Regions from separate parts of the Homo sapiens genome. Here all the other regions are linked to region 2. The links come from fine-mapping of genetic effects on gene expression. A gene starts in region 2. Each other region holds a variant in brackets. All regions are shown on one strand. Distances are from middle to middle.

The links. PIP is the estimated chance that this variant, and not a neighbour inherited with it, causes the effect.
Region 1: its variant is fine-mapped to the expression of KALRN in regulatory T cells (Schmiedel 2018, PIP 0.92).
Region 3: its variant is fine-mapped to the expression of KALRN in whole blood (TOPMed, PIP above 0.99).
Region 4: its variant is fine-mapped to the expression of KALRN in esophagus mucosa (GTEx, PIP above 0.99).

What each region holds. Positions count from the first base shown.
Region 1 is chr3:124,653,677-124,661,501 of GRCh38, forward strand. KALRN (kalirin RhoGEF kinase) reads left to right here. Exons shown (of 60, transcript NM_001388419.1): 39 at 1,925-1,991; 40 at 3,772-3,875; 41 at 4,058-4,127; 42 at 4,755-4,841; 43 at 5,689-5,781; 44 at 7,247-7,297. Among named protein-coding and RNA genes, the nearest start is that of UMPS, 73 kb to the right of the region's middle. The variant G/A (reference allele first, on the strand shown) is at 4,130.
Region 2 is chr3:124,030,072-124,037,896 of GRCh38, forward strand. KALRN (kalirin RhoGEF kinase) reads left to right here and starts at 3,298. Exons shown (of 60, transcript NM_001388419.1): 1 at 3,298-3,742. The coding sequence starts at 3,670. RefSeq lists a silencer at 2,814-3,273.
Region 3 is chr3:124,700,627-124,708,451 of GRCh38, forward strand. KALRN (kalirin RhoGEF kinase) reads left to right here. Exons shown (of 60, transcript NM_001388419.1): 57 at 1,412-1,490. It overlaps LOC124906276 (a long non-coding RNA gene), which reads right to left and starts at 397. Exons shown (of 3, transcript XR_007096039.1): 1 at 223-397. The variant T/C (reference allele first, on the strand shown) is at 3,559.
Region 4 is chr3:124,581,199-124,589,023 of GRCh38, forward strand. The region is part of intron 34 of KALRN (kalirin RhoGEF kinase); the gene reads left to right. LOC105374076 (a long non-coding RNA gene) reads right to left here and starts at 3,361. Exons shown (of 4, transcript XR_001740872.2): 1 at 3,276-3,361. RefSeq lists a silencer at 3,585-3,764. The variant A/T (reference allele first, on the strand shown) is at 3,209.

The DNA of each region.
Region 1 (7,825 bases), 620 kb after region 2:
TTCTGTGGAAGACCAGCCATTCCCTATCCCTGTGAAAGGAGGTTAGAAGTGGTTCTAACCAGTAGCTGAAATAATTTTAGTTGGACCAAAGAATAACATTTGTTTGTAAATAACTTCTACTAATAAGAACTTATCATGAAAAACATGCCTTGTTGTCAGTTCATTTGGCAATTAATTGTGCACTGCCTTGCAATGCCTGCAATTTAAATCCTTGATGTCACTTTTCAGAATGTCTTTTAATACGTCATGGTCTCCTTCATTAACCCTTCAAGGGAAGAGATGACAGGTCCACTAGCAGCACCTAATACAGTTCCCTTCTCTAAAGGCTGAGAAGCCAAAGATAGCCCTCATCTGTCAGCAAATAGCTTAGGATAAAAATATCGCCTGGAGACAGAGAGCTGGACTTCATCTCCAGAGGGCCCTCCCAGCCCCATATTCCCACTCTAACTTTCCTGTGGGTTTTCTTTTGCCACTTTCTACCAGGCGGTAACTTGGGCCATGGTAAAGATATATTTAAATGCTTTCATTTGGCCTTGCCAGTTCCTTCCTGTGGCCTAAAACACATGATTGTCTGTGCTGGAGAGGGAGCTGTTGGAAGTGCTGGGTGCACTGATAAAGAAGCATGTGTTCCTCTGCTTCCTCCCCATTGCCCAGAGGCCCCAGGCTCCAGGAATGTGGTGGCTTCTGGGGCTATACGGAGCAAGAGTTTCAGATGAATTGCTTCCTGGGTTAAAAATGGTTACCACCCTTGTGCTGGGGTCCCACTTTGACATCTCAGAACTTTATCATTTCTGCTACTTGTGCCCAAAATGCAATTGTGTGGTCCCAGGCAAAACTCATTCCAATCAGATTGGAAGAGTTTGACTCCAGTAGGTTGCACAGCACCACCCTGCCCCTGTGCACAACTTTAGCATTTTATGTAAAGCTCTTTAGTGTCTGGACAAAAGACAGAAAGAGTGTTTGGGTTTGAGGCTTCAAGGACTCCCAAGAGCCAGTCAGAGTAGTTTACCAAGCAGTGGGCTGCTGGGAAAGAGCATGGTCTTTGGACTCTTGCACAACTGGGTTCAAATCCTGGCTCTGCTACTCACTTTGCAATCATGGTCAGGTTACCTAATCTTTCTGTCTCTGCATTTTCATTTATATAAAATAGGTTTTACAATACCTACCTTATTATAAGCATGGGAAAACCCAGATGAAGGGAGTGGCACATAGTAAATGGTAGAAAGAATTAACAAGAAAGAAACCAAGAGAGCAAATGTCCTTGTAATTGTTAAATCCTGCATCCTGGAGAAGGTAGTGCTGCATTAAATGTGTGATTTTGGAATGTCTGCAGTCCATCTTTCTGGCCTTGACTGGGGGTTTTCCAGGCCAGTTACCATGATACCTATCTGAATAATTGCAGCTTCCATATCTTAAAAACTTCACTTGATATCTATCCTTGTCTTGGAGGACTTACAGGTTGGTAATCAAATAAATGTCTTTCTCTTCTTGTTAAGTGAAGAATGGAGCTGAAATGAAGGAAGAAAAGTCTCATCTTAACCCCTGCCCAGCCTCAAAGCTTTCAGAACGCAGTTTTGCCAAAATGGTTGTCAATCTTTCTGCCCTCTGTCTATACAATCGTTCAGTTGTAGGTGAGGGAGAAACACATGAAGAATAGAAAGAAGAATGCTAGGTACTGAGCGTCATTTTTCGTGTGACTATTGTATGTCACCTGGGGAAGTCCTTTCTGGCCTTGGTGTCCTCAGCCCTTCAGTAGGGCCTCCTCTAGGGAAAGCATCCGTAAGCATCTTTCCCAGGAGATAAGTGTGGGTGTTTTAAGGGGTCTTGTTATAAAGGTGCCAAAGTAACTTTTCTGTGAACTTAAGTGAAGATTTTTGGCTTAACAATGAAGAGGAACACTCACTGTTCTTAATCTCCTGCTCAGGTTTGTCCTGAATGAGCTGGTACAGACAGAGAAAGACTATGTCAAGGATCTGGGCATTGTGGTGGAGGTAAGTAGAGGGTTCCAGGTGGGTCTGTGGTCACCCAACCAGGAGCACGTTGGACCCTACCTAGGCCAAGGTGTTTTAATCTGATGGTTACATGTACTTTACTGTCTGAGCACTTGCAGAAATGAAAATAAAAATGGTAATAAGTAGAATATGTAGGCAATATTTTTCTTTTCCCCTTGAAATAAGATATTTAGAGGGAAGTAGTGGCCTGAATGTTATAGCATTTGGGGGAGCCTCTTGGTTAGAGTGGAACTCATTCCACTTTGTTTTAGGTGACCAAGCTATTGTCTTAAGAGCTTTTCTTTGATGTTTAACTATGTGGACATATATTCTTCAGAGCTATGAGCCACATAGGCATAAAACAGTTCATTCTTAGTGGGATCTTAGGGCTTATACATTTCCATAGATTTCAAGGGTAAGTGTTACAGCTAGCAAAAAGACAGATAAAAGAAAAACCCACCAATGAGCAAGGTTGACAGGTCCACAGTTAAGAGTCGACTTGGTAGTAAATTAAACAAATCTAGCTCTGTAGGGATTCACTTAAGAGGGACTTAGACACTTGGATGAAAAAAAAAAAGCCTGAGAAAGTAAATGGGTAACTTGAATGGCTTAGAGCCCTATTGTTAATCATCTTGAAAGAACATGAAGTCTAAAAGTTCTCGGCCGGGTGCGGTGGCTCATGCCTGTAATCCCAGCACTTTGGGAGGCTGAGACGGGTGGATCACGAGGTCAGGAGATCGAGACCGTCCTGGCTAACACGGTGAAACCCCGTATCTACTAAAAATACAAAAAAATTAGCCGGGCGTGGTGGTGGGCGCCTGTAGTCCCAGCTACTCAGGAGGCCGAGGCAGGAGAATGGCGTGAACCTGGGAGGCGGAGCTTGCAGTGAGCTGAGATCGCGCCACCGCACTCCAGCCTGGGCGACAGAGCAAGACTCCATCTCAAAAAATAAAAATAAAAGTAAAAATAAAACAAAAAAATAAAAATTCTATGCCTAAAGCCTACATTGCCTGCTGGTTCCTTACATTTGGCCTGAGTTCCCATCCTGTGAAATCTGCTGACTTAGGGTTTTGTATTTGCTTATTCTGAATCTTGGATAAACAGATTAACCAGCCATATAGAAAACCTGAATTTTAACTTACGGAAAGTTATTCTTGTCTTTTTGTGGGGCTGGGGGGTGGAAGAGGTACAATAGCTTCCATATGCAGTCCAGCCCAGGAGTAGAGGACGAGGGAATCTGAAGACTGGGAGGCTGAAATGCAGGGAACTCAGACATCAGTGGTGCGATTATGGACAAGTCATCATCCAACACCCAGGTGCCTGGGTTTTCTTGTCCGTCAGATGGGGATAATGCTACCTGTCCAACCTCAAAACCTGATTTTAAAACAGAAATGAAATTCTCTATGATCACATTTTATAGACTATAAAGTATTAACATATTAAGACTTATTTCTAGGCCAGATGTATCTAGTTCTGAGCCTTTATAGACCTGATTAATTTGGATTGGGAGAAGGAAGAGGGACAGCTTATTGTTTTCTTCTGTGCTCTGCTTTCTTAAGGGGACTGGAGACAAAGAAGGGGATCCTGAAACTCATAAAAGTTTTCTCTATTGCTCTGCACCAGGGGTTAAAGACCTGGTTGAATAGTGAGAAACCACAGAAGCATTTGTCCGCAAACTCACGCAGAGAGTGTGGGCTTGCAGGGGTGCTGTGGTGTGTGGCATGGCCCAGAAAGCTTTCCTGTGAAAATATGCTACTAACCATTGCCTTTGCTGCTGCAGGGCTTCATGAAGAGAATAGAAGAAAAGGGTGTCCCTGAGGATATGCGAGGAAAGGACAAAATCGTGTTTGGAAATATTCATCAGATTTATGACTGGCATAAGGAGTAAGTGTTAATGCTGCCCCGAGGATCCAGTGTCCTGGGAATCCAGGACTTGAGTCCTCTTCCTGCATCTGACTCAAGGAGTAGGGCTTAGGGGAGAGTCTTCTGTAATTCATCTTATTATTGAGAAATAATACAGTTCTGAATAATGTGGCTTCCTTCTCTTATCCCCTTTCTCCTTTTAGTTTTTTCCTGGCGGAACTGGAAAAGTGTATCCAGGAGCAAGACAGATTGGCACAGCTCTTTATTAAGCACGT[G/A]AGTGTCTCCCATCACCTCCTCCCCAACTCCTTCACTAGGCTCATTTATATTCATTTTAAAATCCTGGCCAGGCACAGTGGCTCACACCTGTAATTCCAACACTTTAGGAGGCCAAGGTGGGAGGGTGGCTTGACCCCAGGAATTGAGACCAGCCTGGGCAACATAGTGAGGCCCCCATCTCTACGAAGAATTTAAAAATTAACCAAGGCTGGTGGCACATGCCTATAGTCCTAGCCACTTGGGGGGGCGGAGGCAGGAGGATCGCTTGAGCCTGGGAGGTCAAGACTGCAGTGAGCCATGATGGCCCCACCCTGCACTCCAGCCTGGGTGACAGAGCAAGACCCTGTCTCAGAAAAAAAAGTAAATAAAATTTCTTCTCTTCTGCTCTTCCTTGAGTGACCTTCTTTCTCAGCCCTCTCTAAGTTTTTTTGTTTTTTTGACCACCTTGGCGATTTGGAAAGTGGCTCTTGCCCACCACATTTATATCCTTGATATTCAGCTGCCTTGGTGCGTCCCCAAGTGCGCCTTTGTCCTTTGTCCACGTGGAGGCCAGCACGGCACTCTGAGATTGAACAAAAGACACAAGATGCCTGACTGTCCACATGTCTCTCTCTGCTCTTTCAGGAGCGGAAGCTGCACATCTACGTGTGGTATTGTCAGAATAAGCCGCGCTCAGAGTACATCGTTGCTGAGTATGACGCCTACTTTGAGGTAAGCTGTGCAGGCTTTGCTGAACTGGGGTGGGAGGAAAACTCAGGCCAAAACAGCCACTTTCAGAAATACCAGACGTCATCCATCCATATGTGACCCCCACACAGCACCGTTGACCCATTCATGGCAGGAATAGCTGCCTCAACAGAGAAAGCAGCTTCTTAGCTAAATTCTCATGAGCACCTTCACTTGAGAGGAGCTGAGGTGGCCCAGTCTGGGTTCTGATTTGAGAATCCCCCATTTGCAGAATAAGCCTGAACACAGAGATGGTTTGAGAAGCTCCAGTTCTTCTTAAGTGACCCTGGAGCAGACTGTACCCACCAGTCCCCCAGGGACCACTTACTAAGGAGTCTTCTGTTGGTTGAAGGGTTTGCAGCCACTTCCTAGTCTGCTTGGTCTAGCCCAGAAGGATTTATTTTGCTGGGAGAAAGGCAGCATCATCACTTAGAAAAAGCACTCAGCTGAGTGTTTGGAGATCTAAGTTTAGGGCCTGGCTCCATAGGCTTGTGTGTCCTAGAAGAAGCCCCTTTTCCCTGCCTTTGCCCTGAAGTGGTGGAGAGAATAAGGCCCCTCCAGCTTTTCTCCCAGGACTGGGATGAAGACCAAGGTGTGGAAGTACTCACTGTAAAAGCATGGGAGGAAGGCAGGAAGCCAGTGGTGATGTGTGTTATGTGTTGTTCATAACAAGTGAACAGTCCTCTAGGCAATTTTACCTCTCACATTACTTAAAGATTCTTCAACTTCATTGGAAAACATGCAGACCTGTCTTCCATGCCTTTGAACCCTTATTCAAAGCACCCCAGTTCTTCAGTTCCTTTTTCTTCTAATATTGCTGCCTGTGTTTCAGGAGGTAAAACAGGAGATAAATCAGAGGCTGACACTGAGTGACTTCCTCATCAAGCCCATTCAGAGAATAACAAAATACCAGTTGCTCCTCAAGGTAAGAAGCTGGGAGCCTGGGTGAGGGCTGGAGAAGGATCCATCAGGCTCAGAGCAGGTTCTGAGCTAGGGGTAGAGCTAGCGGTTCTGTCTCCACCACACTGTCCCAAAGGACTGTGAACTGTGGGAGGGGTGGTAGGGACGTGGGAACTTTTATCTGACTGCTGGTTACTCTGTCAGCTTTGCTCCCAAATAAACTGCATGGCTGTTCTTCCTACCCTTAAGGTGGGTTGTTACTTGATTTTATTTTTTCAATTCACATTCTTACTTTGTCTCAATCATTGACTTGATACCTTTAAAAAATAAGAAGAATATGATATCAGAGTGAACTACAAGGGAGAAAGAAAGGGAAAGGCAAGGCTTTAGAAATATTAGATTAGTAATACCTAAAATTTGATTTTATATATATATAAAATCAATATATTATATAAAATCAATATATTTTATATATAATCAATATATATTATAAAGTATAATATGTATGTATATATTTGAGGCAGGGTCTCACTCTGTCACCCAGGCTGCAGTGCAGTGACACAGTCATAGCTCACTGCAGCCTCAAATGCCTGAGCTCAAGCGATTCTCCCTTCTCAGCCTCCCAAGTAGCTAGGACAACAGATGCATGTCATCATGCCTGGCTAATTTTTTATTTTTTTTGTAGAGACACGGTCTCACTATGTTGCTCAGGCTGGTCTCAAACTCCTGGCCTCAAGCAGCCCTCCCACCTTGGCCTCCCAAAGTGTTGAGATTACAGACATGAGCCACTGTGCCCGGCCTAATTATATTTTAAACAATGGCTTAACTTGATTCATCTTATGGAACTAGGAGGCTAAATAGAAAAGAGAGACTTAACTTTCCTTTCTCTCCTTTCTTGTCATAATCCCCCTTTCCTTTGTCTTCCCTCCCTCTCACTCTTCCTTCTCCCATAGCTTTGAAATTTTGAGGCTGGGTGCAGTCACTCACGCCTGTAATCCCAGAACTTTGGGAGACTGAGGCAGGTGGATCACCTGAGGTCAGGAGTTTGAGACCAACCTGGCCAACATGGTGAAACACATCTCTACCGAAAATACAAAAATTAGCTGAGTGTGGTGGCACTTGCCTGTAATCCCAACTACTCAGGAGGCTGAGGCAGGAGAATCGCTTGAACCTAGGAGGCACAGGTTACGGTGAGCCAAAATTGCACCACTGCACTCCAGCCTGGGCAACAGAGTGAGACTATGTCTCAAAAAAAAAAAAAAAAAGGAAAGAAAGAAAGAAAAGAAATTTGAATATTCTGGGAGTTCTCTCTATGTTATTACATCTTACATGACTCATAATTTCATTTCTCAGCTACTCTACACCATTGCCACTTCTGCTGGGAAGGAAAGTCTCCAGGGTGTTATTGTATTTTTATGATAAGTTTTTTCCCAGCTATTTTACTAATTTTACCCCTTCCCACACTCTTGCCTGCTTCCCCTACTTGTTAGGACTTCCTGAGATACAGTGAGAAGGCTGGTTTGGAGTGTTCAGATATTGAGGTGAGTTTTCTGCTTGTAATGCTTGCTGTTCTTAGGGACCATATTGGATATCTTTCTCTAGAGGGGAAAAGATTGTCTCAGGAGGACCGTGGATCCAGGTGGACCCCTCTCAGACAGTAAGAGGCTCTTGTAAACAGCTTTGTACCTGCTTGAGGAATGGCAAGTGTTAACACAGTGTTTCCTAGAACTAAAGAAATCTGTCCTGGGGTGCACTAGAGCTTAGCCCCACTGGTGTTCTTTTGGCTCCTGGTGACACATAGTGGGAAAGGGTAACCCCTTAATATCCTTCAGAGATTAGATGTAAGTTGCACAAAAGCCTCAGTATGCAATTTTATTCGTGAAGGCAAGTATTATTTGAGTCAAACATATAAAGTATTCCATTTTCACCTCCCTGTCCAAACCCTGCAGACTACTTCCAAGTGAAGTCCTTTGAGACAATGTCACTATGGGATTATTTTAAGCCAGGGAGGTTACAGACCATTCTGACAGATTATTTTAGTTGAAAACCTCTAGTGTTTCACAAGCCAG
Region 2 (7,825 bases):
GCTATTTTATTGCCTTCTGCTCTGATCTTTTTTATTTCTGTTCTTCCACTTTGATTTCGTTTGCTCTTACAGTAGAATAGGAGCTTATTGATGGGAGATCTTTATTTTCAAAATAGGTATTTAGCACTATAAATGTCTTTCTGCTTCAGCTGCATCCCACAGATTTAGACTGCCTTAGCTGCATCCCACAGATTTTTATGTAATGTGTTTTCATTTTTATTCACTTTGAGATTCTTTCTAATATCCCCCTTTTAATTCTTTTTTTGGTGGGGGTGGCAGGGGACAAAGTCTCACTGTGTCACCCAGGCTAAAGTGCAGTGGCACAATCTTGGCTCACTGCAACCTCTGCTTCCTGGGTTCAAGTGATTCTCATGCCTCAGCCACCAGAGTAGCTGGGATTGCAGGCAAACGCTACCATGTCCGGCTAATTTTTGTATTTTTAGTAGAGATGGGTTTTGCCCTGTTGGTCAGTCTGGTCTTGAACTCCTGGCCTCAGGTGATCCCCTGGCCTCAGCCTCACAAAGTGTTAGAATTATAGGCATGAGCCATGGTGCCCAGCCCATCCTTTGAATTCTTAGTAGCTCATGTGTTATTTAGAAGTGTGTTATTTACTTTCCAAATATTTGGGAGGTTTTTCTAGATTCTTTTTGTTATTGATTTCTAGTTTAATTCTATTGTGGTCAGAGAACATACTCTGATTTTTTTTTAAAAACCAACTTAGGTATAATTTATGTACCTCTTTGCATGATTTTAATCCTTTTAAATTTATTGAGATTTGTTTTATGGCTTAGTGTATGGTTTATCTTGACAAATGCTACCTGTGCATTTGAAAAAATGTGTATCTGCTGTTATGGAGTGGAATATTCTATAAATGTCAGTTAGGTTAGGTTGGTTGATAACATTGTTCAAGTCTTCCATATCTTTACTGATGATCTGTCTCCTTATTCTATTAATTACTGCATTTTACAGATATTAAATTATCTGACTATAATTATAAATTTTTATATTTCTCCTTGCAATCCTATCAGTTTTGCTTCATGTACTTTGAAGCTATCTTATTAGGTGCAAACACTCTTAGGATTGTTACGTCTGCTTGATGAATTGAAATGTTCCTCTTTATCCCTGGTAATATTCTTTGCTTTGAAGTCTTCTTTGATATTAATATAGCCATGAACACTTAACATTTTAATAGAAGTTGCCAAATTTCCTCTCAAAAAAAGTTTGTGTCATTACATAAGGTGTTCCCCCTTTCTTGTCTATATCTTGAGATTTTGATATGACCCTTCCTCTAAACATGTAATGTTTCTTCTGAATTGTGATGAGCTAATGCCTTGCCAGGCCACTGGTTCTTTAGCTGCACAATGGTGGCAATTAATTAATAGCAGCTCTGCCATCACATATGTGTGTGCGGGGGTAGGGGAGCAGACCAGGGGTTAGGCAAAGGATTAAGGGGAAGGAAGATTTTGAAAAGACAAATGAGAAGTATTTTCATTGTCAGAAAAGGCATAGGCAAAGGGGCATCTTAAGCCAGTTCAAGATACTAGGGCCAGATGAATTAGATCTCAGGGCAGTGAACTTGTGATGTCAGAGTCACTACAGAGGTCTGATAGATGTACTCAAGGTTGGAGACAGGTCTGATAGGTGTATCCAAGGTTGGAAACAGGTACTTTTTTTTAATGGGTGAAAAAAAATTAGACTGTTTGTGTCAGTGAAGAACGTGATGCGTACAGGGAGCCAGAAAGTGTTCACTAAAAACTAATTTAATTCATTTTATTTGCTACAAGTTTACACAGTTGGTGGATCTGCATAGGCCCCAGTTGCCTTGGCCCCCAGAGAGAGGTGGAACCAAACAGGTTACTAGAGACAAACAGATCCAGGAGATTCTGTCTGATGGGTTGCAGTCATTAACTTCAGACCAGTACCTGGTTTTCCTATTAGGCGTGTTTTAACACATTAGGTCAGGCCACCACTTCTCCATCTGTCTGGATGAGGCAACAGCGAACAGCGCTCAGCAGACCTTATTAAGTACTCAGGTCTTAAAGACCCTCTGTTTGGTGGGCTCTGTAGTCACTAGAACCATAAACACACTACTGGCTAATTATTGTTTAATTATTGCTTAAAAACTGATGGGCACAATACAATCACCGCATTAATTACCCCATACAGCATCTGTTTTCTTTTTTGCAGCCATCCCCATTCCTCCCCAGCCCCTCTCCCCACTTTAATTGAAATTCAGCTTGCTGTAACACCTCCTTCCTCCTGGCCAACTGGATCTCTCCATTCACATGAGGGAGAACAAAACCGAGAAGGCCCCAGGGATTAGAGAGTTTTGACAGCTGTCCAAGAGGAGCGCGGAGATACGGGCCAAGTACGGAGGCAGGACAGAGACAAACGAGGGACAAGAGAGTGACGGAGGGAGGGAGAGATAGGCAGGGAGACATCACAGGAGCATTAAACTGGACAAAGAGTCACAGAGACAGGCGGAGATGTTTAAAGGGGCGCTGAAAAGGGGAAAAGGACGAGAAAAGATAAAAAGGAGAGAAACTGTGGCGAGCTGGTGAGGAAAATGTGAGAGGCTCAGGAGGGCAGGGAGACAGAAGAGAGCTCGTCAGGAAGGAGGGGAAGAAAGGCCGGCCTCTAGGGACAGGTCAGTCCAGCTTGGAGACCGATCTGAAGATCCAGAGAAGGCGGGCGGGCAGCCTGGTGGTCCCCTCACACACCTGGGAGTGGAGTGGACGGAGGAGGTGGCCGCGGGGCCGGGAGGAGCACCGGCGGCGCGAGCGGAGAAGCTGAGCGCGCAGCGCCCGGGCCGCAGAGCCCCCTGGACAAGCCTGGCGTGTGCCCTGCAGCCCCGGGCTCGCCCGGCGGCCCCGCCCCCTCCCTGGCCCGGGCTTTTCCTGCGGAGCTCAGGAAGCCGGCCTAGCACAGCCTCGAACAATAGCTCGGGACTCGGGCTCCGCTCCCCGGGAGGCCGGCGCGGGGCCGCTGGGACTGGGGGCGTAGGCGCCGCCGGGGGCCCGCAGCGAGCCCTCGGCCCCGGCCGGAGCTTCAATTCAGCTCGGCGCTCCCGGGGTCATTGTTGGCCGGGACTGAGGGAGCGGGAGCCGGGGGAGGAGCTGGGGAGGCGGCTGCTGCGGCGGCGGCGGCGGCGGGAGCCAGAGGGGGAGCTAGAGAGCGAGCGAGCGAAGGAGGGAGGTAGCGAGTGAGCGAGTGAGCGAGGGAGGGAGGAGGTAGGGAGACAGGGAGGGTGGGAGGGAGGAGGAAAAATAAAGAGGAGAGAGCGGAGCAGGGCTGAACAATAGAGACAGGCAGACGGGCGAGCAGGAGAGCCAGCTGCCGCTGCTGGGGGACAGCGGGCGCCCAGGCAGCCCGCACCCCGGCCCCGGGCCCCGGCCCCAGCCAGACAGCAGGCGGCCAGCGCCCTGGGGAAGGGGTACCATGGGGGAGCTGGCGGCAGGCACCCCCAGCCCGCCGCGCGCCTCCGCCTGAGGGAGGCTCAGCGTCCTCTGCCCCAGCCCCGCCGCCCAACGCCCGCCCTCGAAGCTCCGCGGCCGCCAGCTCTGCGGCCGCAGCAGCTGCGCCCCGCGCCCTCCGCCCACCGGGCGCCGAGCAGCCCTCGGCCCCAGGCTTCTTCGGCTCCCGGCTGCCCGCGGACGCCCTCCCACAGTCATGAACCCCCCTGAGGGAGCAGCGGAGGAAGGAGGAGCAGCAGACTCGGACGTGGACGCCTTTTTCCGGACAGGTAAGCCGGGCAGGGCGCGGGGGGCCAGGGCTGAAGGCTACTGCCTCGGACGCGGCGTCTCGGACAAGTTTGGGGAAGGAGGGCTGTTGCTGCCGCGTGCGTGTTGGGGGGCAGTGCCCCCTCGGCGTCGGGGCTGGAGTTGCCGAGATTCTGGTTGTTATGGCAGTGCTGGCTGCGTCTGGGGAGGGCGTGGGGGCTGGGAACTCCGCGCCCCTCCGCCTTCACCCCAGTTGCGGGAGTCTGTGTTGGGGAGGTGGGAGGCGGTCCCCTCGGACCGCCTTCTCCCAGAGCGCGGGGATGGGCGGTGTTGGCTCACTTTGCAGCGCGCCGCTCCGGCTACCGGCGTCCCGGCCCCTCCCTTGGCTCCCCCTCCCCTGTGCCTGTCAGCGGGGCTCCCGGCGGCCGCCCTGGGTCGGCACCCCTCCTCGCCGTCGGGGGCCCGGGGCCCTGATGTGCACAGAGGGGCGGCGGGGACCCGGAGCCGCGCCGGCTGCAGACTGACAGGAGTGGGGCGGAAGACATCGGTCTCGCCTGGTGCGTGTGGGGAGCTGGTCCCTCTGACTTGAGAGGCAGACCCAGCTGGGAGGGCGGTGGGCGCCTCGGACCTCCCCCTTGTCCTCCTCTTCAGTTCTGGGAACGGAGGAGCTATTCATAAGAATTACTCATTCCTGGAAGTGTGAGTTAGCGTCCCTCTCATACACACCCACTAAGTCTCTGCTTGCTGTGAGGTGTAGAGCCCTGAGATGTCTTTCTAGCTCTTTGCGCCCCTGCCATCGTCCAAGTCCCGGGTCCATTGCTCCTCCTGCTCCCTGGCTACACAGTCCCTCCCTAGAACCGGCACTGACCACCCTTATCTTCCACCACCTGTGGCCCTGTTTCTCTGATGGCCAGGGATTCCCCGTCTCCCTGTACCTGTGGCTTCCACCAGCTTCTGTGTGTAGCTCCCCATCTCCCCACATGTCTGAAACAGTTTTGTCTGGAATCTTTGTCCCAAGGAGTCCAGTAAGTTACCGGGGCCCCATGCATCTGCTCTCCCTTCTGGAAAGTTGGATTAGAGGACATGAACTGGTGGGGGTCAGGGGTCAGGTTAGCTCTGGAGGGTCTCTGCACATCCATCTGTTTCCTAACCCTGTTACCTTGCCCTGGAGGTCATCTCTAGGGAAGGGGGTGGGGTGCTTTGCGGGGGAGACTTGTGGCTTTGGAAGTCAAGACTTGATTGGCTCATATGTTCATTCTCTAGTTGATGTGCAGAGGAAAAAACTGGAGGACAGGAGCTGGTGCCAGGGTCTGGGGAAATCAGAGGGAGCCCTGTCATTCTATTCTGCTTCCCAGGTCTAAGCCTTCTTTCCTTTTCTTTCTTCCTCCTTCCTTCCCTCCTTCCTCTTCCGAGACATGGATTCTATTTTCTTTCTTCTCTCTCTCTCTCTCATACACACACAGCCCAGCACCCAAAAGCATGGATTCTAAAGAGGTGGAATCTAGGGAAAAGGTGGTTCTGGGGGCTAAGTGATATTCAGAAATACTCATTATGAGGCAGAGGAGGGGAGATATGGGAATTCATAACTGGGACTAGAAACAAATTGACCAGTCAATCAAAAACCCAGCTGACCCCCCTTGCCTCCCAACTGGGGCAAAAGTCTGCATTTTCTTAGCTCTGAGGGAAAAATCTTGAAGTGTGAGCCTTCCCACCTTCCCTTTCTGGACTCCACTTTTACCTTTTGGTGCCCACTCCTCTTTCCCCTTTCCTATCATCCAAACACTAGGTCCTGTTCATTTTCTGTTCCAGGCACCCGTAGCAGAGCTCAGTTCCTGGAGGCTTGCTTATTTCTGATAATAAATTCACACAGTGTTAATGGCCAATAATAGTCCAATGTGTTACTTTTCCCAGGGCCTTTCAAAACACAAGGTGTGGCACACATTATCTAACCCTGGCTCAAATCACAGAATAAATAGCAGACTGGGGTCAGTCTCCTGTGGGATTCCTATGTTGGGGATATTCTCCCTCCTCCTTGGGCAGCCCAGTGGCTGAGCTAAGTCTGATGTGCACTTAGTATCAGAGAAAGGTTAAGTCATTGGTGCATGAGGCTGGAAATGACTGATGACCTGTAACATGTTGCAAGAGGGGGTAGGTCAAGGACTACATCCACCCTGTGTGGCCCTCTATGCTTGGCTCACTGACTGTCACCACACTTCTGGTCTCTAGCCTAGGCTCTTGCTGGGGATTCTTCTTCTTCTTTTTATTTTTATTTTTTGTTGTTAATTTTTATTTTAGGTTCAGGGGTACATGTATGGGTTATATAGATAAACTGTGTGTCACAGGGGTTTCGTATACAGATTATTTCATCACCTTGGTAATAAGCATAGTACCTGATAGGTATTTTTTCTGATTTTCTCTGTCCTCCCACCTTCCACCCTCAAGTAGGCTCCGGTGTTTGTTATTCCTCTCTTTGTGTCCATGTGTTTTCATTGTTTAACTCTCACTTATAAGTGAGAACATGAAGTATTTGGTTTTTTGTTCCTGCGTTAGTTTGCTTAAGATAACAGCCTCCACCTCCATCCATGTTGCTGCAAAGGGCATGATCTTATTCTTTTTTATGGCTGCATAGTATTCCATGATGTACATGTACCACATTTTCTTTATCTAGTCTGCCATTGATGGGCATTTAGGTTGATTCCATGTCTTTGCTATTGTGAACAGTGCTGCAATGAACATATGCATATGCGTTGGTGGAGATTCTTAAGCTTAGAAAAGCCATGTTTCTAAACCTTCTCCCTTCTGATTTCCCATCTCTGTGGAATATAGCACTATACCTGATAGGCTGGATAGATTATAAATGTATTCTATTGAACAACTGAGAAAGCTTCAAACAAATTTTCAAAGTCCCTAGCACCAGGGTTACCCCTTTCTTTCTGATGGAAAATTTTGTATGCACAAGGACCAAACTGGAAATTGCTTTGTCAAAATTCTGGCATACTGTGCTTCTAATTAGGCATGTTTCAAATTATTCTGTCATTTTGGTTCCTTGTTTGTCCTCTTCTGATCATTTTGGTGTTTCAATCCCTTGACCAATTGGTTAAGCTAGATTCCCTAAATCTCACTTCCCTGTGTGCACATGGACACAGACATCCCACCCTACCCAGCCTACTATTCTAGATTGGTAGACTCCAGATTGTCTTCTTGGGAATTCTCTGTTCCAAGCCTGAGAAAGTGTGTTACAGTAATTTTATTGATCATAGTTATGAGGCAGAGGAGGGGAGTTATGGGAACTGATAACTGGGACCAGAAACCAATTGACCAGCAATCAAAAACAACTTTTCAATTATCCCTAGAGGCTTCTGCTGTCCACGGTGCTGTGGAACACAAAAGAAATATTCGAAGTGGTCTCTGTCCTCAAAGAACTTCTGAAGAAGATTGACATTTACTGTTCAATTAGAGATTTATTGCTAAGCGTTGTGGTGCTATAAGTTAAAAAGTTGGCAGAACTACAGAGGAGGTGGAACTTCGGGTGGTCCTTGAAGGATGAATGAAGAATGGGCAGTGGCACATGGGAGTTTGGGCATTGAAGAGCCTGGGCTGACATAGAGGAAGATGTAGGTTAGTGAGGAATGGGAAACAGGATTGGAGAAGTGGGGCAGGGTCAAATAGGGAGAGTCTTGAAAGCACAAGAGTGGAGATTGGATTTGATTCTGGGGCAGTAGGGAGTCATTATGGATTCTTGAACAATGACACATCATGAAAAATGTGGTGTTTGGAAAGGTTAATCTGGGATAATATGATTTAATAAGTGGAGAAGAGAAGGGTAGAATCTAGGGAGATGCAAAAGTGATCTGGAGGTGAGGGGGAGGAGCTTTGGTCTGGGTTGGTGGCAGAAAGGATGGGGAGTCAGGGATGCCATTGAGACACATTTTTAGAGGTATAAGTGTGGGGACTTGTTGATAATCTAGTGATGGGGGAGAGGAAAATGAAGCCCATGAGGAAAATGAAGTAGCTGGGTTGAGGAGCCTAGAGGACTGACAGTGTCTGACTGATGGACAGGTGTGGGCTGGTTGAAGACAGGACCTGGTTTTGCAGGGCAGATAATG
Region 3 (7,825 bases), 670 kb after region 2:
CAGGGACATTTTGAAAGAGAAAACTTGGCTATCCTAAAGAAATCTCCAAATGGTGAGATTTTGGGCAGTGCAAGGGAGTGGTCTGTGTGTACTGGGGAGAGCAGTGGGTGGGGGGCAGCTGACTGTACTCGAAAGACCATGGACCTGTGTGCCTTAGGGTTAAGGGAATTCTGGAGTCTCCAGAGGGGTTTGGGAAACCCTCTAAATCACCTCTGCCCCCACCTGAATCCAGAAATGCTCTCCAGTTCCAGTCCCACAGTCAGCCCGGTTTTCTCCCAGTGACTTTGACTTTGTTCCCACGAGCCTGTGACTCTTGCAGAAACCTACGCCCTGGGTCTCTGTTTCCTCAGAATTCAAGATGGATAAGCCGCCTTCAGTCTCAGCCAGGCTGTGCTCTGGGAAACCTGAGGGAACTGGCTCCAGGGTCAGCTGAGCCAAGCTGCTCATGTGACCCCTCTCCTCCCAGGCTGCTCACTTGCTCCAGCCCCGGATGATGCTGTGTGTTTTGCTATTTGTGAACCTTGGTCCCCAACAGATGACACAAATGCGTATTGCTGTGCTTGCTCTGTGTGCGTGTGTGTGTGCACGCGTGCGTGAATCATTGCCAAGGAATTGACACATCACACAAGGTAATACTGCCAAAGAATCTACTCAGGCATATATTGTGGGTTAAGCTAAATCCTTCAGTATACCAGATAAGCTCATTAATGCCTGAGAAGAGCGGGATAAGAAGATAATTTTTTCTTTTTCTTTCTTTCTTTCTTTTTTTTTTTTTTTTGGAGACAGGGTCTCGCTCTGTCTCCCAGGCTGGAGTGCAGTGGCGCGATCATAGCTCATTGCAGCCTCGACCTCCTGAGCTCAAGTGATCCTCCAACCTCAGCCTCCTGAGTAGCTGGGACTACAAGTGTACACCACCATACCTGGCTAGTTTTTGATTTTTTTGTAGAGACAGGGTCTTGCTATGTGGCTCAGGTTAGAAAGAGAAATTTCTAAAATGTCTTTTCCTTTTCTCCTTTCTTGACCTTGTAACTTTTCCCTTCTCTCTCTGCATCCTCCTTACACCCCTGATTTTCACGAGCTTTTCTAGGTCTTCAAAGTGTTCTTTTATCCCTTTTAAATTTTTCTCCTAAATTTATCTTATAAAATATCCATAAGTCATATTTCTGATTGTACTGCGTTTTCCCTTTGTTTAAGTAGATGGGAGAGAGAAGCTGACTCTGTCATGTCAGTTTCCCCTTGGATGATTTTTTAAAATAACATTCCAGAGAATCATGGCATTTTCCCACTGAGTCAGACTCCATATTTGGTCATGAGAATTGCTTTGGGGTTACTCTGGAGCTTTTCTGTTAATTTTTTCTTTATTCTTATATGACATCCTCGATATTGTAAATGGATTCTCTTTCTTCCGAAGATGCTGCTGCTGATGGTGCCACCATTTCTTGGAAGGAAAATTTTGACTCAGCTTACACTGAGCTGAATGAAATTGGAAGGTAATGACACAGTTTTATATTCCTTCATTCATGAACACCTAGCAACATCACATCAGAACAGTAACTTTTTGTTGTTGTCATTGTTTATTTCTTTTACAAATGCAATTCTCTCCATAGCAAGAAAAAAACTAAAATATTCGTTTGTATTTTCTACTGTTCTTTTTCTAACTTCTTAAGTTGGATGCTTCATTCATCAGTTGTCAACCTTTCTTCTTTTCTAATATAAGAAATTAAGGCCCAAAATTTTCTTCAAAGTACAATTTTAGCTATAGGTCCTGAGTTTTGATATGCAGTATTTTCCTTATAAGTTATATGTAGTTGTCTTCAACTGTGAATTTTTCTTTGACCTGGTTATAATGGAAACATGTTTTAATATATATGAGATTTTTAAAGGTATGAGTTTTTTTAAAGTATCTTTTTATTACTGATTTCTAACTTAATTTGCATTGTGGTCAGAAAATCTATATGGTACTGATTCCTTGGTTTTTGTTTGGACTTGCTTTATGAGTAGTACATGGTTACTTTTTGTAAAAATTTCCACATGTTCCTGGGAAGACTGTGCAATCACTAATTGTTGGATATACATCTCTATATTGCCCGTGTACCAAGCACATTAATTATTTTATGAGTATTTCTAATCCCAATCCTCCCCCTGCCACACACATACACTCCATACCTTTCTCTTTCTCTCTCTTTCTCACTTGCAGTATTTTGGTTAGAGAACATTTAGTGTGTCCTCAAAAATAAAACAGATAAAAATATGACTTTTAACAGAAAAATTAAAAATCTATCACCTGGCCCACAAAATAGTCTATGGGAAAGAAACAAAAGGCATTCATCCCTATGCATGCTTTGGTCTCCAGGTGGTCTGTGTGAGGGAATGTAGGTAGATCTTACAGGTTGCCCACCCGTAAGATCCTTCCCCCCGGATGTATAAATAAAAGAATACCCACTAACGATGGGCCATTGACATCATTTCTAGCTCTGATTAGCATTTCTCAGTGAAGCATAACATTTTTTAACTGACGTGGTTGTGACCGACGTTGTAGAGGAAACCAAAATGGTCCTTCTGCCTGTGTCTTAGGCAGGAGTCACAATATCATTCACTGCCTTCCGTTACAGCACCTTTCATCAAAAACAAACTCTACCTCTCCTTTCCTGTCTTCTTTGTGTAGCCAAACAGAAGAAAAAAAGCCAAGGAAATTTATGTAATGGTGATGATGATAATGATGATCTCAGTATCTATAGTATTCTAGATACTAAGCAGATACTATATACAAATGTTATTTTTGTTTGTTTGAGCTCTACTGCTTAATACACAAACATTATTTAATTTAATCCATACAACACTATGAGATACTGTTTGAGCAGATTTAAAAAAAAAAGATAGAGATCGGTTATTGCTATGTTGCCCAGGCTGGTCTTGAACTCCTGGGCTCAAGCAATCCTCCTACCTCAGCCTCCCAAAGTGCTGAGATTACAGGCCTGAGCCATTGCACCAGGCTGAGTATATTGTCTTTTTGTCTTCTTTTTTCTCTTTTTGAGACAGGGTCTGTCTCTGTCACCAGGGCTGGAATGCAGTGGCAGTATCATAGCTCACTGCACCCTCAATCTCCTAAGAAGCTATCCTCCCACGCTTGCGGGGAGGATGATCAGTCTTCCAAGTAGCTGGGACTACAGGTGCACACCACCATACCTGGCAAACTTTTAAAAGAATCTTTTGTTGTTGTTTTGTAGAGATGGAGTTCTCACTATGTTGCCCAGGCTGGTCTCAAATTCCTGGGCTCAAGCAATCCTCCTGCCTCAGTCTCCCAAAGTGTGGGATTACAGGTGTGAGCCACCCATCTCACCCAGCCTGAAGTATATTTTCAGTAAAGGAAACTCAGGGTCAGGGAGGTTAAGTAACTTTCTTAAAGCCCCACAACTAGGAGGTGTGGAGCCAGGATTCAAATTCTGGGCTACCCAACTCCAAGCCTGGTCTTGTTTTACTAGCATATATTGTTTCTCATCATATCGATTATTGTCCAAAATAAGCTCTAGTAACTGAAATCTAGTTTGCTTTATTATA[T/C]TGAAATTTGTGAAGCTAAACATGACCCCCAATAATGGGCCGATTAAATCCCCAGCTAGTTCTAAATGAAATTGGTTTCATCACCCGGATGCCCCAGTTAATTCCTCCTGGAGGCATGTGTTTGCTATTATTAGCCATAGGTTAAGTCATGTTTTAGCTAAAACAGATGGCTGATTTGATATTTCTCAAAGGGAAGATCAATTTTCTTATCTGTTCAAAAGTAATCGATGTTTTTGTTTTAAAGTCTCTAACAGCCTGAAGCTTGTCCTCTCTCCTAAGAATAGTCCTTATATTTTCAGAAGATCTTTTCAAAATGTTGTACATTAACAGAATGGAAATAATACATGGAAATTCTTTTTTTTTCTTTTTTCTTTTTTCTTTGAGACAGGGACTCACTATGTTGCCCAGGCTTGAGTGCAGTGGCATGATCACTGCTCACTGCAGTTTCGACCTTCCAGGCTCAAGTGATCCTCCCACCTCAACCTCCCAAGTAGCTGGGACTACAGGCGTGAGCCATCACAGCCAGCTAATTTTTGCATTTTTTTTGTAGATACGGTATTTCACCATGTTGCCCAGGGTAATCTCAAACTCCTGAGCTCAAGCAATCCACCCACCTTGGCCTCCCAAAGTACTGGGATTACAGGCGTGAGCCACCCCACCAGGCCCAAATAATACATGGAGATGTTAATGTGAGACACAGGAAAGATATCTGTGCCAGGGCTGTAGAAGTCAATCGACTTGCTTCATCACACCTAAATCTGGAATTCTGGGCCTTTGTGACTATTCTGTTAAAAGGAGTGCTCTGGTAATTAAATACTATAAAAAGCCACAGTGCAGGAAGATTCTCTCCTACAGCACATCCATAGAAGGAAAGGGCACTTGAGTATGGCGTGTTTAACCAGGAATGAACTATACAGGCAACAATGCAGTATAGAGAAGGCAGGGGATTGTCACTGGAAATGCTGACCCATTGCCTATACCCATTGCTATATAAAAAGGTAGCAGTACCAGGCCTCCAGGTCAGATGGCAGGTTGAACACAGGCATCTATCTTCACTTCTTCCTAAACTTCATTGAAACTATAATGCAGGGTTTATTTTATTTTATTTTATTTTTTTAAGTAGGCATATAAGAATGAGGACATTGGAAGAAGAGACAAAAATAAAGTATTATTTTCACAGAAATACAGATGTTTTTCACAGAAATTCATGTTTTTCTTCTACAGAAAAACAGATGAAAGAATGATAAATGACCTTCAAGACCTGAGTGAGTCAGTCAGTCATGGGGTCAAATGAGGGCCAGTATAATTTTTGCAGCAGAATTACCCAAAAGCTCAGGTATTAGGAGCATCACGTACCTCTGGAAGTAGGTAAAAGGAGGATGCTAAAATTGAAAGGATTGGCTGAAATTTTTTGAGAAGTTGAGTCTCAGAAGGGAGTGAAAACTGATGTCTGTGTTCAGCCTGCCATCCTTACCTGGAGGCCTGGTCCTGCTACAATTTAGATTCTATACAGGCAACCAGTCAGCATTCCCAAGGGATAAGCTGGCTCCAAATCTGCTCCCCAGCTTCAAGTATCTGTGTGATTGTCTTTCTTCATCCAAGAAAAGACTGGTCCCTCCCTTCCTTCCTTCCTTCCTCCCTTCCTTCCTTCCTTCCTTCCTTCCTTCCCTCCCTCCCTTCCTTCCTCCCTCTTTCTCTCTCTCTCTTTCTTATTTCTTTGTTTCTTTTGTTGTCGTTGTTGTTTTAGGACAGGGTCTCACTCTGTCACCTAGGCTGGACTGCAGTGGCTCAATCATGGTTCACTGCATCCTTGACCTCCTGGGCTCAAGTGATCCTCTTAGCCTCCCAAGTAGCTGGGACTACAGACACACACCATTATGCCCAGCTAACTTTTTAATTTTTCATAGAGACAAGGTCTCCCTATGTTGCCCAGGTTGGTCTCGAATTCCCAGTTTCAAGCAGTCCTCCCGCCTTGGCCTCCCAAAGTGCTGGGATTGCAGGCATAATCCACCGTGCCTGGCCTGGAGTTTTATTTTCTGGAAAGGGAAAAATGGAGCATCCCTGCCCTTGGGGACACCAGGCACAGTTGAAGGCAGTGGAGCCATTCTGCAAACAGGGACAATATGAGAATGTATGCATGCTGGGTACTCAGAACCCCAGCTCTCTTATCCACTGGACCTCCAGAGGTTGACAGCCAGGGTTTCACCCTCTAGGCAGAAAGCAGAGGGCTCTTTCTCTGGGAACTCTAACCAGCCCAAAAGGAAAGACTTAAAGATACTGATTGTGGAGCTTTCCCAACTGAGCAGTCTTGTCAAATCACTCTGTAGTAAAGTAAAAGGTGACAGGCTTCACCCACAAGCTCAGAGCTTCTAAACATCTTTTTTCTTTTTCTTTTTTTTTTTTGAGACAGAGTCTCGCTCTGTCTCCCAGGCTGGAGTGCAGTGATGCAGTCTTGGCTCACTGCAACATCTACCTCCCAGGTTCAAGCGATTCTCCTGCCTCAGCCTCCCGAGCAGCTGGAATTACAGGTGCCTGCCACCATGCCCGGCTAATTTTTGTATTTTTAGTAAAGATGGGGTTTCTCCATGTTGGCCAGGCTGATCTCAAACTCTTGACCTCAGGTGATCCGCCTGCCTCAGCCTCCCAAAGTGCTGGGATTACAGGTGTGAGCCACCGTGCCCTGCCACCAAACACGTTTTTATTCCTGAACTTTCAAAATGAGCCAACTCCCAATGCCACCCAAGATAGAGTAAGCCCACTGTAGCCTTTATCTCCCACTGATTACAACCAGAATCCCTGGACAAGATACAAAAAGCAATACCTGGGTATCAAATTAAATAATAGAGATGAGAGTGGAAAGACAAAAGACTTGGGCTGGGTGTGGTGGCTCACGCCTGTAATCCCAGCACTTTGGGAGGCTGAGGCAGGAGGATCACTTGAGCCCAGGAGTCCAAGACCAGCCTGGGCAACATGGCGAGACTTCATCTCTACAAAAAATAAAAGAAAAAACTAGCTAGGCATGGTGGTGCACACCTGTAGTCCCAGCTACTTGGGAAGCTGAGGTGGGAGGATTGCTTGAGCCTGGGAGGTCGAGATCGCACCACTGCATTCCAGCCTGGGCAACAGAGCAAGAGCCTGTCTCAAAAAAATAAAAGGAAAGAAAGTAAAGTAAAAACTTGAAGAATGGCTAATGACAAGGAGAATAGCAGTTTCCTTCCTTCCTTCCTTCCTTCCTTCCTTCCTTCCTTCCTTCCTTCCTTCCCTCCTTCCTTCCTTCCCTCCTTCCTTCCCTTCTTCCTTCCTACCTTTTTTCTTCTTTCCTCTTTTCTCCTTTATCTCCCCAGCTTTGATACAAGTGTGGGCCAAATCAAAGAACTATGTAGCATGCACAAACAGCAAAAACTCCAAGAAAACCCCACATTTCTGGCCAAAGGACAAAGAAAAGGGAACCCTTTGAGCTGGAGAGAACAGAATAATTCATGCTTAATTGTTTTTTTGTGTCTCCTTACTGTCACTGCTTCACCCCGAGGGCAGTCATGTGAAACTGCATGACAATGCAGGAAGCTAAACCTCTGAGGGAATCCCATCTTTCTGGCCAGACAACTTCAAAAAGGGGCACTTGGGAGATAAAGAATGCAGGGGAAATCTCAGGAGAAAGCAAAAGAAGAAGATCTCCTAATTCTATATGAAATGACTCAAATCCTGGGCCACCTTCCAGCTGTGCTTGTATGAGGCACATCCAAAGAAATATAGCAAGGCTCTGAGAACTGGACTATGATGTAAACCACTGCTCAGTGACTGTTTAGTCTCAGACTAATCTTTGTGTGGTGCTCACAAGGGGCAGACCTAAAAGCATAGTAAACACTGAAAACTGAACTGACAATAGAACCACCTCCCACAGAAGGTGAGACAGAACTTGCAGTCTGAACCTAACCAAGTTGATTGCTGACCAAAACATACAAATAAACCAAAAATCAAACTCCTCCAGAGGATTTTAACAGAATCAGTCTCACAACATAACATTTGAAATGTTTGGGATACAATCTAAATTTGTTCAACATTACAAAAAGCAGAAAAAACTTAAAAAATTCTCGGGAAGAAAACAATCAACAGATGCCAGCTCTGACATGATCCAAATATTGGAACTATCACACAAAGACTTTAAAGTAGCAATTACAACCATCCTCTGTAAGGTAAAGGTGAATACTCTTGAAATGAATGGAAAGATAGAAGTTATTGACAGAGAAATAGAAATGATTTTTAAATT
Region 4 (7,825 bases), 550 kb after region 2:
TTAGTAGAGGCTGGGTATGGTGGCTCACGCCTGTAATCCCAAAACTTAGATGTGCATGGTGGTGCACGTCTGTATTCCCAGCTACTCCAGAGGCTGATGCAGGAGAATTGCTTGAACCCGGGAGGCAGAGGTTGCAGTGAGCCGAGATCGTGCCACTGCGCTCTAGCCTGGGTGACAGAGTGAGACTCTGCTCAAAAAAAAAAAAAAGTATCGGTGGAAACATGCCCAGTGGATCCATTTTGCCTATAGTGGACTACTTTAGGGTCTACTGGTATTTGATTTCTAAAGTAAGAGTTGGGTCTTTCTCAAACATGTAACTCAAGCCAGTTTCAGCAGGATGAGATGTCATTAGTCTCTTGCAAAGAATTGTGACAAAAAAGTGATCCAGTGTTATCTGAACACAAAAACCAAGAGGGAAGATTTGAGTAAAAAACAAACTGGTTATTCCCCATGAAATTTTGAAGCATCTTTGAATTCCCATCATAATGCCCCCAAAGTGTAAAAAGAGAGGGATTGGGTGGGTAAACCAAATATTGAACCTTGGACCATAGCATCCATACTATGGATCACAAGCAAATAAAGTTAATTTTTACAGACAGTTTTGGTCTGGGCTTGCAAGAAAAACAAAATAGGTATTGTCTTTGGTGACATGGAAGAGAGAACTAAATAATAGTGCTGGTTGTTGTGGGTCAGAACTGGAACCCAGGATAACTATGTGAGGATTAAGGATCCTGCAGTAATTCAGTCTGGCAAAATGAGACTGACCAATTATCAGGATGGTCAGTGAATCAGGAATCTTGGGTGCAGACAACATGAGCTATTTTTTTTTTTTTTTTTTTTGAGACAGAGTCTCACTCTGTTGCCCAGGCTGGAGTGCAATGGTGCGATCTCCGCTCACTGCAACCTCCGCCTTCCGGGTTCAAGCAATTCTCCTGCCTCAGCCTCCCGAATAGTGGGGATTACAGACATGCATCACCATGCCCAGTTAATTTTTGTATTTTTAGTAGAGATGGGGTTTCACCATGTTGGCCAGGCTAGTCTTGAAGTCCTGACCTCAGGTGATCCGCCCACCTTGGCCTCCCAAAGTGCTGGGATTACAAGCGTGAGCCACTGCGCCCAGCCAACATGAGCAATTTGAACTGTAATTTCTCTGTTTTTGTATGTGTTAGAAAGAGCACCAGAGATTCATTTCCTGCTTGACAGTGACGTTCTTATGTAAACCTTGCCAAGAGAAACCATCAGGGAGATGGCAGTAGCAGAACTAGAGGGTAGATTTTTGACTTTATGTTCTACTGTTCCAAAGGGGTGAAGCTTTTTAGAGCTTTTCTTTAGAATTAAACCATTAAAGCCTCATCATAGTTTATTAATTCAGTTTCTTCAAAGGTAAAACAGGACACTACTTTACAAGGTTTTTTTATGAGGATAAATGAGATAGTATATGGAGAACATGGAGGAAACTGCTTAGCATATAAATGCTCAATAAATGTAAGCTATTATTACTCATTAGGTCATGCTTCGATCATTTACTGGTATCCCAACCATGTGGCAGATGCCTTGGCACATTTTTTTTGGGGGGGTTGAGCTGGGGGGGATGGGGTCTCACTCTGTTGCCCAGGCTGGAGTGCAGCAGCACAATCATGAGTCACTGCAGGCTTGACATCCCCAGGCTCAAGTGATCCTTCCACCTCAGCCTGCCAAGTAACTGGGACCACAGGTATGGTCCACCAAGCACCGCTCATTTATGTACTTATTCATTTATTTTTATTATTTGTAGAGACAGGGCCTCCCTGCATCGTTCAGGCTGGTCTTGAACTCCTGGGCTCAAGTGATCTGCCTTGGCCTCTCAAAGTGCTGGGATTACAGGCATGAGCAACCATGCCTGGCTGTCACATAGATAAATAAAGCACAAATCTAAGCATGGTTCCAACTGGGAAAGGAAGCCCCAAATCCTGGTAACTTTTAAAAGCCTTGTCCCATGAGTGTGTTTCTTCCAGGAAGGCATTGGTTACCTGGGTGATCAAGCTTCTGTTTTTCATTCCTCCCACAAACTTCCCTTTTTTCTGATGAATGGGCCCTCTTTATGAGTGTTGTGTGTTTCCAGCAGGCCCTTTGCCCTAAAGCTGGACACAAAGGAATGGGAGAGACACCCTGTGAGTAATACAGTGGTTCATGGAAAGGTCCCACTGATGTGGTCCAAGTGGGCTTCAAGGGGGTTGTGGAAAGCAAGCTTGGCCTTGAAACATGAAAAAGATTTAAAAGATAGGGATAGGGATATAAGTAAAGGAATGATAGGTCTACTGGGCATATTGGGCCGAGGGGATGGTGAATGGAAGTCTTGCACCGTAAGTAAGATGTTCGAAGTTTCTCTGTAGGCATTCATTCACCTGGAAATATTAAACTTCACCTCTGTAACAGGATGTTAGCCCAGAAACATGGCCTGAGAAGGGAGGAGGACTGGTTCCTCAAAGACAAGTCAAGGGGCTGTTACAAAAAGAAAAGGGGACAGTTGCCAAATAGGCAAGGAAAAAGTCTGAATCTCAAGTAGGTCTCAGTGTGGTCCTATACCAACATCAGCATCACCTGGGAACTTGTAGCAATGCAAATTCTCGGGCCCCACCTCCTACCTACTAAATCAGCAACTCTGGGAGACATCCATAGATATTTTTAAATTCTACCATCGGCTGTATGTGGTGGCTCACATCTCTAATCCTAATGTTTTGGGAGGCTAAGGCAGGAGGATCACTTGAGCCCAGGAGTTCAAGACTAGCTGGGGCAACATAGCAAGACCCGAGACCCTGCCTCTATTAAAGAAAATTTTTTAAAGAAAATCTACAACCGTGGAATATAGGAATTCTTTTACATTTTTTTTTTAAATGGGGAAACTGAAGATAAAAGGTGAAGTGACTTGCCTAAGTTCAAACAGCTAGCAGGTGGCAAAACTGAGCTTTGAAGGTTGGTTGTATGATTCCAAACCCAGAGTGTGTTTTCACGTCATTACAGTTGGAGAGCTGATCAATATGAGGCACTGTTATCATTATTAGTAATCAGCATTACACGGAAGGAAAGGAAAGGGTTGGGGACGGTGTTTTCAATACAGAGGAGGCTGTGGGGAGGGAACGGGTGAGGCTGCGAGGAAGAAAAGGGCATCCTTGAGTCTTGGAGCATCTAAGTCTGCCCCTCTCTTACCTCTTTGGCCCCATCTAGTTGT[A/T]TTTTTTAAGCCAACGCCCATTGTGGTGGCCTTTGAAGGGAGGAAGTTGCACATAAGGAGTACCTACCTGTTTGGTGCCAAGGGCTCAAACTCCACCCGTTTGCCCCGTGCCCACAGCGTTGGTGCCACAGGCAGCGTTACATGAGGCTCCGGCCGCTGCTGGCCAGGTCTCCTGCCCACAGCTGGACCTTGGAACTCCGCCCCTTAGGCCCTCCCTCCCCGCCTGGCCCCTCCCCGCTTCCCAAGGTGGCAGTGGCTCCCAGTAAGTCAGAGCTGCGGCCGCGGTGCGGGGAGAGCACAGCGGGGAGGGCGGGAGCCGGCTCTCGGGCGGCGGCGCTGAAGTTTCCTTCCCGCCGCGCTCTCACCCCGGGCTGGCGCCCCGTGCCATGCGGGAGCGCTGGGGCGGCGGGGCAACATGAAGGGCGGCGACAGGGCTTACACCCGAGGTCCCTCTTTGGGGTGGCTCTTTGCTAAGTGCTGCTGTTGCTTCCCGTGTAGAGGTGAGTGGCTGTCGGCGGCCTTGGTGCCTTCTGTTAGCCAGACTGGTCGCGCTCAGCGCGAGGGAGGGTGGTAGGGAGGGAAGGGTTGGGGAGGCCTCTGGGGTAGGCGGATGGGGCTGGGGATCAGGAGGGCGGCGAAGTGAGAGAGTTTGCTGCGATCCGTTTCACAGTTTCCCAGACAGAACGCGCGCGCTCGCTGGCTGGCGGTGAGGTTCTGACTTGGATGCGGAGCTGCTGTTTGGGAACTCAGTCACCTAGCAGCGACTTTGGATGTCAGGGCGCCAGCCTGCTAGGGAGTGGGATGCGGACGCGGGGGTGGGAAGGGGACGCAGAGCCGCGTGTGTCCCTATAGTGGCGGAGAAGTACCTCACCTCTCATTTACACATGGATCTCAGCTGCGGGATTAACGTGTGACTCCTGGCTACAGGAATGTGTTTGACACCTGTCTGTACACCAGGAACTATTTTTGCCAAGTGACAATTTTCTCGTGGGACTGGAGCACATTTTTTTCTGCCTGGGTTTTCACAGGCCAGCGTGGATTTGTAGCTCCGGGCCGGAGCTTGGCTCATTAATTAACAACTCTCTCTGTGCCCAGTTAGGACTGTATTTAATTATTCTGCTAATCTTAACGTCGTGGAAGAGACTTGCAGGAAGCAACCAATTTCCCCCAAAGCAGCCGGCGAACAGGAGGGCGAGAAGGATCACAGAGGGAGGGTTCTCAATTGTGTGGCTTCTTCTGAAAAAAAAAATCAGAACCTTCCCAAATAGGATAAGCAGATGCTCCTAAGGCTGTTCATGTCACTTTAACACACGCTAGGATAGCGGGGGAAGACTGTTTTTGTGTGGGTAGAAATGAGAATGTAGCCCCCTACTTGACATTTGCCCTTTTAAAAAGTTTCACCTTTTGGGCCTCTGGCCTCCACCCCCATTTACAATACCCCACCCAGTCTCCCATCCCATCTGCTATGCAAAATCCTAATGGAACTTTCTGGCTGAGTTACTGGTGAATAAACTTCATCCAAGCCACCTTTCAGCATCCTCTGTGCCACAAACACACAACATAGCCCTGAGAAATTTTCTATCCTGAGCAGATATAAGGTTACCAAAACTAATTAAATCTGAATGACTTTTCCTGCGCGTCATTAAGGTCATAATCTTAGCATCAGATGGTCTCAATCTCTGTATTTAATTAGAGCAGCCTGGAACCGTGTGGTTTTGAGCTCTAGAAACCAGAATTCAGATGAAGAAGGAATGTGAGGGGCCAGGGACCCTCTAAGTCTGATTCAGAAACATTCAAAACCAAGGCTGGGAATTGAGGGAAAGGGGGAATAAAGCGCGGAGGAAGCAGGAAATGGCCAAGGGGAATCTGAGTGGGTGGGTTCGCTCGAAGGCTGCCCTGCTTTCCCCGCAAAGAGTTTCTCTGCAGGATTTCTTGGGAGTCCGTTTCCTGTCAGACAGAATGTGGGGGCTGGGGTGGTGCTTATCTGAAGTCCCCACAGCTGCCTCCTTGAGTCCAGATGTGTGACAGCCCTGGCTGCCCTTCAGGGTAACTCTCTGGGCGTCTTGCTGGCCCTTGCTTTGTTGAGGAATTGCCCGACTTTCACTCTCGCTGTGATGCAGGGGAGGGCTGGGGAGCTGGCTCCAGGGCCTGGTAAGTGCCTCCTGCCTAGGGCCTGTGAAGGCAGTGGCTGCTGGCTCCGTGGCTAGGAGAGGAGGCGTGCGAGTGGCTATCGTAGGAGCGGGAGCTGAAAAGGCTAGCGACCCTCAGATGAAGACTGAGGGAGTCAGAGGTCCAAGCAATGAGACCAGTTTAAAAGGGAAAAGAAGGGTGGCAAGGTGGGTGCCCGGGGCCTTCTCCTGCTTTACTCCTCACTCCCCTAGATCTGAAATGTGTGAAGATGAAAAACGGGCTCATCAGAGGACGATGGTGGGGGAGGTGAGTTAGCCACTCTCCAAAGAAAACTCCTGCCTGTGGCTAGGCTGGGGGTCGTGTCTGAGGTGTTGGGCATGCCCTGAGGCTCCCTCAGGCTCACTCTAACCGAAAACAGTCTCCACTCAGCCTGTAGGCATCAATTTGAAAACAGATTGAAAAGATAAGGTCTGTATTGAGCCTGAGTGCATGGCCCAGAGTCCGTGGACTCTTTGGGAAGAGGCTTGCCCAATTGCAACACCCAAAAGGGCTGAGGGGAGAGTCTTGAGGCTGTCTCTCAAGTGGAGGGTGTGCACTGCAGGGGACTGACTGCCTCCCTTTTCAGTTGAACCAGTTCCTCTGGTCTTAGGGAAAATACAATGGAAAGGCAACCTCCACACTCCACCTTGTAGATAAAGGCGGCCGGTTGTTTGGTCTCTATCCCTTCTCTCTCAGGGAGAACTTGGCTGTCTCCTGCGGCTTGAGTAGCTTGACTCTGAAGCAATGACTCAGAGCCCACTGCTGTGGTTCCCAAGGCAAGGGGACTTGACCATCTGACTTCCAGTCATGCAGGATTTAAAGGATACCTCCTTCTAAAGTCTGAGGAAAAGGACAAAAGTAAAAGAACCAAGAGGAAGTGGAATGTTTTGGCTATTTTTGACTTGAAGCTAAGTGAGCTACATTGGGATTTCTCTGGTGAATTCTGAGTGGTTGTAATTGTCATCACTAGGGTCAGAGTCAAGGATTTAGATAAAGTACCTGTGTGGTCTTTAAATATCACATTTGAGGAAAATATGGATGAATTTCACTGAACTTATCTTTTGATTTGGAAGAGTATGGAAAGCGACTATCTTGTATTTTTCCCTCCACCCCCACCCTCCACTTTTTTTTTTTTTTTTTTTTTTTTTGATACAGGGTCTCACTCTGTTGCCCAGGCTGGAGTGTAGTGGTTTGATCATGGTTCACCACAACCAGGATCTCCTGGGCTCCCACCTCAGCCTCCCAAGTGGCTGGGACCATAGGTGCATGCCACTACCCCAGGCTAATATTTTTATTTTTTGTAGAGACAAGGTCTCACTATGTTGCCAGGCTGGTCTCAAACTTCTGGGCTCAAGTGATCCTACTGCCTCAGCCTCCCAAAATGCTGGGATTACAGGCGTGAACCACTGCACTTAGCCTTTTTGGTTCTATTGAGTATGAGTACAGAAAGCAGGTTTGATGAAAGATGATTTTTCTTCCCTATCTTGAAACTGGTGTTGAAAGGCAGGAAAACTGAAAACCAAGGATAGAAAGGAAATAGATATCGGGTAAGAAGGAAGAAAGAAGGCAAATGCATTTATAACTGCCTTTTTGAAGGTGAAAAACAACCAAAAGTGAGATAATGGCATGCATGTGTCTAAGGGGTGATAAATCATTGATGTCACACTCTGTGGGGAGTTAGTTTTGGGATAGCTTTGACTAGCTAGACTGTCCTTCAAGCCTGAAAAAGTGGGTCAGTTCAGAAAAGATTTCAAATCACCTGGAAATTGCTAAGTTATGTATTGCACTGGAATTTGTGATCAAGGAGCCCAGAGATTTTTCTGACCTTTCTAGGTAGAAGCCAGTTTTAGAGACTTAATTTTGTTTTGAGATGGAGTCTCGCTCTGTCGCCCAGGCTGGAGTGCAGTGGGACAATCTTGGCTCACTGCAACCTCTGCCTCCCAGGTTCAAGCAATTCTCATGCGTCAGCCTCCTGAATAGCTGGGACTACAGGCGTGCACCACCATGCCCGGCTAATTTTTTGTATTTTCAGTAGAGACGGGGTTTCACCATTTTGTCTAGGCTGGTCTTGAACTCCTGACCTCAAGTGATCCACTCCCCTCGGCCTCCCAAAGTACTGGGATTACAGGTGTGAGTCACCGTGCCCAACCAAGAGACTTAAGTTTCTAGTCAACTTTCATTAGCTTTAGGTATGTGGACAAAAGTCCCCTTTTGAAAGCTTTTCCTGATTACCATCCTCCACAGTGTGCATGGGATTTATTTATACTTGTTTATTGCTGTATCATTGTCCTTGCATCCCAAGCCCACGTGCCATTGTGTCTTCACATTTAGACTGAGATAGTCCAGCCACCTGAACATCTCAGAGGTAAAGAGAGGAAGGAGGTGGGACTTACCCAAACTGAATCACTTCACTGGGGAGGTGCAGGGATTGGTTTCTATGATTCTTTC